2 separate regions of the Homo sapiens genome follow, and region 2 is linked to region 1. The links come from fine-mapping of genetic effects on gene expression. A gene starts in region 1. The other region holds a variant in brackets. All regions are shown on one strand. Distances are from middle to middle. Region 1 holds the start of TRIM66 (tripartite motif containing 66). Region 2 has its middle 100 kb from the start of LMO1.

Evidence for each region.
Region 2: its variant is fine-mapped to the expression of TRIM66 in transverse colon (GTEx, PIP 0.93).

The regions. Positions count from the first base shown.
Region 1 is chr11:8,681,282-8,684,126 of GRCh38, forward strand. It overlaps TRIM66 (tripartite motif containing 66), which reads right to left and starts at 1,384. Exons shown (of 25, transcript NM_001388022.1): 1 at 1,320-1,384. It overlaps RPL27A (ribosomal protein L27a), which reads left to right and starts at 1,511. Exons shown (of 5, transcript NM_000990.5): 1 at 1,511-1,535; 2 at 1,921-1,984; 3 at 2,725-2,800. The coding sequence starts at 1,533. RefSeq lists enhancers at 941-2,140, 1,004-1,073, 1,274-1,463, 1,790-2,432 and a silencer at 1,584-1,783.
Region 2 is chr11:8,367,118-8,370,054 of GRCh38, forward strand. It overlaps a transcript of STK33 not described here. Among named protein-coding and RNA genes, the nearest start is that of LMO1, 100 kb to the left of the region's middle. The variant C/T (reference allele first, on the strand shown) is at 1,399.

The DNA of each region.
Region 1 (2,845 bases):
CACCACCACGCCCATCTAATTTTTTGTATTTTTAGTAGAGACGGGGTTTCACCGTGTTAGCCAGGATGGTCTCGATCTCCTGACCTCGTGATCCGCCCGCCTCGGCCTTCCAAAGTGCTGGGATTACAGAAGTAAGCCACCACGCCCGGCCAGAATTTTGGATATTTTAGCTAAAATATATTTTAGCTGAAGGGGGCAAGACAAAGAAAAATAAATAAATACACGCTCACACATACACACAGAGAATAACTGAGGGGATGGGATTTTAAAAATTTATTTCATTTTTCCCATGGGATCTATTAATAGACTAGCGAGGGGATGGGATCTTGAACACTGGTTGAAGGAACCGACTTAAGAGCGAAGACATGCTGCTATTAGCGAAGACAGGGAGGTGAGGGTAAGTTCATTTATTCACTCAACAATCACTAGTTGAGTGTGGATTAAAAAAAACAGTCCTTGACCACATAAGGAATTAGGTCTAGTAGGGAAGACAAACGTAGGTCAATAAATTACATAAGGGTTATACTAGATTGTGTGGTGGTACAGGTGGGGAAGCGAGCAACTGTCTGCATTGTGTCCAGGAAAGGGTCACAGGCGTGTTATGTAGATTCTGGAGAAAATTCAAAAATAGCATTTATTTTTACTTATTTACTTTTGTATGTGGAGACGAGGGTCTCACTATGTTGCCCAGGCTGGTGTTGAACTACTCGCCTCAAGAAATCCTCCCGCCTCGACCTCCCAAAGTGTTGGGACTACAGGTGTGAGCCACCGCGCCTGGCCTAAATGTGGCATTTAGAAAAAGTATTTACAACATCTGCATTAAAAGGACCATAAAGCAACCAGGCATCTAAGTCCCTGAAGCAATTTAAGTTGCTCAAACTTGAGAGGACAACCAAATGATAGCAAAAGGGCAAAAGAGAAAGGAAGCTGCAGTGCCCACTCAGAAGTGTGAGAGCGGGAGAAGGCATTTCGGGAGCCGCCCGAGCTTCAGGAAACCGAGCGAGACACCAGGTGGGCACACTGAGGATTAAAGAGGGCCTCGCGGTTCCGCACTGCGGCCGGGAGACAAACCAGTAGCCACTATCACCAGCCCCGGGCAGACCACTAAGAACTGTGGAGGTGCGCGGGGCGGCTCAGGGCTGGCGCATTTGGTGAGGAGCTCAGACAACGAGGCCCTTAGGGTCGGCTTAGGCGGTTCCCTGACCAAGGCGCCAGAAAAGGGCCTGGCTCAAGCAAGCACGGGCGGCGTGCAGTACAGCACACCTAGCCCCGATTCTTCAACAGTTCTCGCCCTCCGAGCCTAGCACAACGAGCCTCACCGAAACCGTACACCGCCACCAGGACACTCCGTGATGGGGGATCACCACCCTCAGAAAGAGGAAGCGACTAGCAGGCGCGCAATCCCGCGAGACCAGGAGGCCCCGCCCGAAGCCCGGCCTCTGTGACCGGAAGTGAGGCGTTTTGCCCCGCCCCCGTGGCCGATACCTCGCGAGACTTGGCGAAGGCCTTCCTTTTTCGTCTGGGCTGCCAACATGGTAGGTGTTTCGTTTCTTGCCTCCTCTTCCTTGCCGGCGGAGACCCCTAAGCTGTATTCCCATTGCCCCTAGTCATCCACTCCCTACCATGGTCGGGGCTTCCAGGCTGCGCATGGCCGCCTGCGGGGCAGGGTGGCCGGCGCGGGCCCGGGGCGGGGCTCCCGGAGCCGTGTGTTAGGCCCGCGGTTCGGATCTCTAGGACACGCGGGCCCCTGCGCTACCGTGGTGAGACCTCACGGCCCTGAGCGGATCGGTACCCTCAGCTTTCCCAAACGCTCCAGAAGTTAGGTCTTTGACCCACAGGCTTACAGGACCATCTCGGCTGGCGGGCATCGCCCCCTGCCCCTAATTCCTTAGGCCTTACCACCAAGCTTTTTCCACACAGCCATCCAGACTGAGGAAGACCCGGAAACTTAGGGGCCACGTGAGCCACGGCCACGGCCGCATAGGTAAGTGCCGGCTTCCCCTCGGGGTGGGCCTTGGGCTCTCTTCGGGTGCTTAGCTAGTCTGGAGATCGGTAGCCTATAAGTGGGTTAGAATAAGACCTTTTTGTGGTCAAGTTGCACAGCTGTTGATTTTTTTCTGACGATCCTCTAGTATTCCAGTTCTAAGGAATTTCACATCAGTGGGGTAATAGGAATTGAGCAGGCACGGTATTGGGTTAGTTGAAGACATGGAGTACTGTGGGAATGCTGTGATGTGGAACCTGAAAAGATGTTTCACCCGGAATCCTAAAGTAATCGCATTGCTGAAAACCGGCATCGGTAGGGTGGGAACAGCGTAAGCGGGACACAGAAGTCTGGGAAACACTCTGCTTTTGTGCGAGGAAGTATTGAGATGCATGAGAAGGCTGTGTGGTGCATGTAGCTTTTTTGTGTGTGTGTGAGACTGATCACTGTCGCCCAGGCTGGAGTGCAGTGGCGAAATCTCGGCTCACTGCAACCCCTGCCTGCCGGGCTCAAGCGATTCTCCTGCCTCAGCCTCCCGAGTAGCTGATATTACAGGTGTGCGCCACGACGCCCGGCTAATTCTTTTTCTATTTTTAGTAGAGTCGGGGGTTTCTCCGTGTTGGCCAGGCTGGTCTCGAACTCCTGACCTCAGGTGATCTACCCCCCCTCGTCCTCCTAAAATGCTGGGATTACAGGCATGAGCCATCACACCGGCCCCACGTAGCTTTGTATTCCTGCAGGCAAGCACCGGAAGCACCCCGGCGGCCGCGGTAATGCTGGTGGTCTGCATCACCACCGGATCAACTTCGACAAATAGTAAGTGTCCTTGGACTGCTTTTATTGACACAGCTTGGGAGGTAG
Region 2 (2,937 bases), 310 kb before region 1:
GTATATATGTGTGAACAAAGTACTAAATGTGTACAAAGCGTGTGTGTATAAGTTCTGCTTCTACATCATGTTTGTAGACAATGGAGGGCTTATATCTGTGCGCACTATGCATGCCAAGGTTATGTGTGTGAGTCCTACGTCTGCAAATGCTGAGGACAAAGTATTTGTACCTCCTGTATCCATGCAGATTGTGAGTGCGTGGGTATACATTGTGTATATACACGCATCATTGTACAGATGTGTACAAGCCCATGCTGACGTGTGTTCACATCATTGTACATTCATGTTCTGACTATGAGATATGGGGACCACAGGCTCCTCTCTGCTTCTTTAGGTACTGAGGTTCTGCCCCTGAGCCCAGGACTCTAAGGGTAGATCTTCCTGCACTGTGACATGGACCTGATGCTGCCTGAACTTCAGCTGGGTCTTGAAGAATGAGTAGCAACTCACCAAATAAATGGAGTAGTAGAGAAGGGAAAGGGGTTCCAGACTAAAGATGCTTTTCAAACACAATGATTGTTCTGAGTGTGCTACACACACTCACATAATCTTCACAGCAACCCTACGAAGTGGGCACTATCACCATTCCTATTTTACAGATGAGGAAAATGAGTTCTAGAGAGTTTGGTAGCTTGCCCAAAGGCACATGAGGCTTGAAAATGGTATAGTCGGGATTTGAACATACACTCATACATTCACATACACACAATGATATGCACATTGAACATGCAGACAAGACAGTGGACACACTCATCACACACACACACGTATACACAGTGCACACGCCCAAACCCAGGCTATCTCCAGGTGTTCCCATCTGTCCAGAGTGACTTGGGCCAGAGCTCTGGCTCAGCCCTAGCTTCTATGGGGTGGTGGAGCAGGAGGGAAGGGCAGCGAGCATGTGATGAAGCGGGACTGAGGGATATAACTGAGGGTGGTCTCCATCCTCTAATCCTACTCCTGCAGCCAAGCAGCAGAGGGCGGGATCCTCCCTGCCCATCACACCCAAAGAAGTGGACCCACTTCAAAAACCTCAGTATAGTCTCACTTCCTCCATCAGCTATGGGGGAAGGATTCTGTCCACCCTGTCCCTGCATGGCTATGGAAAGGACTCCCTGGGAAATGGGAGACCCTAATCCCCCACCCGGGCCTCCTGTGTCCCCAGTTTCCTCAAGAGCCAGCAGTCACTGAGTTTCAAAAACAAGATACCTGAAAGCTGCTGCCTGTCCCATGCACGATGTTGCCTCTTGCCCAAGGAGGGTCCCTGAGAGCGATGCTGTCCTTGGCCTGTGCCATCAAGGTCGAACTGGGCCCTGGCTACCCCCTCACCCTCAGCAGACCCAGGATGGGCAGCCTGCCCAGCCCAACAGCGCCAGAATGCCCGGCCTGTCGCCTCTC[C/T]CCTGGGCTCTGTCTCTTCTTAATTAATAGAAAGCCATTGTGAATACTAAAGAAGAAATTAGCACATGCCAGTCATTTCCGGGTGTTTATAGATTTCTGGATCCATCTCTAATTAACCCCTCCAGTTCTGAAGCCCTGCCCGAGTGGCAGGTTCTTGCCTCCCCTTGGATGGGAGCTTGGCCCCTGCCCTCAAGGAGCCCCAGTCTGGTTAGCCTTGTTTCCCTGCTTCAAAGTGACTTCCCATTAATCTCAGGATCCAAAATAACTTACCGCATTTCCCCCGGGGAGGGCCCCAACCACCTTAAGACATTGGGTGGTCAGATCAAGACATGAAATAAGCATGCCCTTTCACCTTCAAATCCACATCTGGGAATTTATAGAAAGGAGCTGATCACACAAACGAGCAGTGTGCTGAGGCAGCCCCATTACACAGCTGTTACCACCGCAGAAGCCATCAGCGTCTGCGTCCATCTGTATGGAATGCCGGTTAGGGGACAGAGAGAGCTACTGGGCAGCCATGGAAGGGTCGCGATACACATCTCGGTTCACTGCCATGGGGACATGTCCTTTATGCACTGTTTTGACAAAACTGCAGGTTACTAAAGTGTATTTATAATATGACATTTACATAAAATCATATTCATTGAGAGAGAAAGAAGGCTCAAGAGGCAGGTGTTTTGAAGTCAGGATAATATGAACACTTATCATCTCTGGGTAGTGAAGTCACTTTTTTTTTACCTTCTATTTTTACAGTTTTCTGTGGTGTTTGGGTTTTTACTCTGTGTGTGTGTGTGTGTGTGTGTGTGTGTGTGTGTGTATAATCAGAAAATCCAGCCAAGGTGTGCTATACGATGGCACAGGCAGCTCCAGGAAGCCCCAGGGGCAGTGGGAGGGGCTGATGGGATCTTCAGATCTAAGAGTGGGGACAGAGGGAGCTTCCAGAGAATGAGGAGGCTAAGGGAGTCCTGCCTGATGAAGCTTCTTTGTCATTTGTGTGGAAAGCTTCCTTGCAGGTGGGGGCAGTGGGGCCTGGGGAGGGAGGGTGGGGCAGCACCTAGCCTCAGTTCTCCCACCTCCTCTCCTCCTCCGCCTCTGCAGCCAGTGGGAGGGTGCAGCTGGCCTGAGTGGGGTTCCAGAGAGCTCTGATGCCGGAGCTTAGCAGGCCTGATCTCTCTTCCTGCTGACCCCAGTTTCTTTATTTGTAGAATTCTGAACTCTCACTGCTTGCAAATTCCTGAAAGGCTGAGCTCCAGCAAGGCCCCAGGACCTTGGTTGCTGTGCATGCCCTCTGCACAGCTAAGGATTGGGGCTGGGGGCTAGTCTTTGAGGCTTGAGATGCTAGGGCTTTAGCCTAAGGGGCCAGCCCAAGGAACACTGTCGCCAACCTGCACACCAAAGGCTCAGTCAGTGAGTGTTTCTGAGTGAGAATTCAGAGCCCTGGATGGGGGATGCCAGAGAGAGGCAGTTGTCTGATCTGAGTCTCTGTCTCAGGCCCTTCCGTGTTAACAACAGCCCCGTTCTGGTGCTCCAGCTACACCA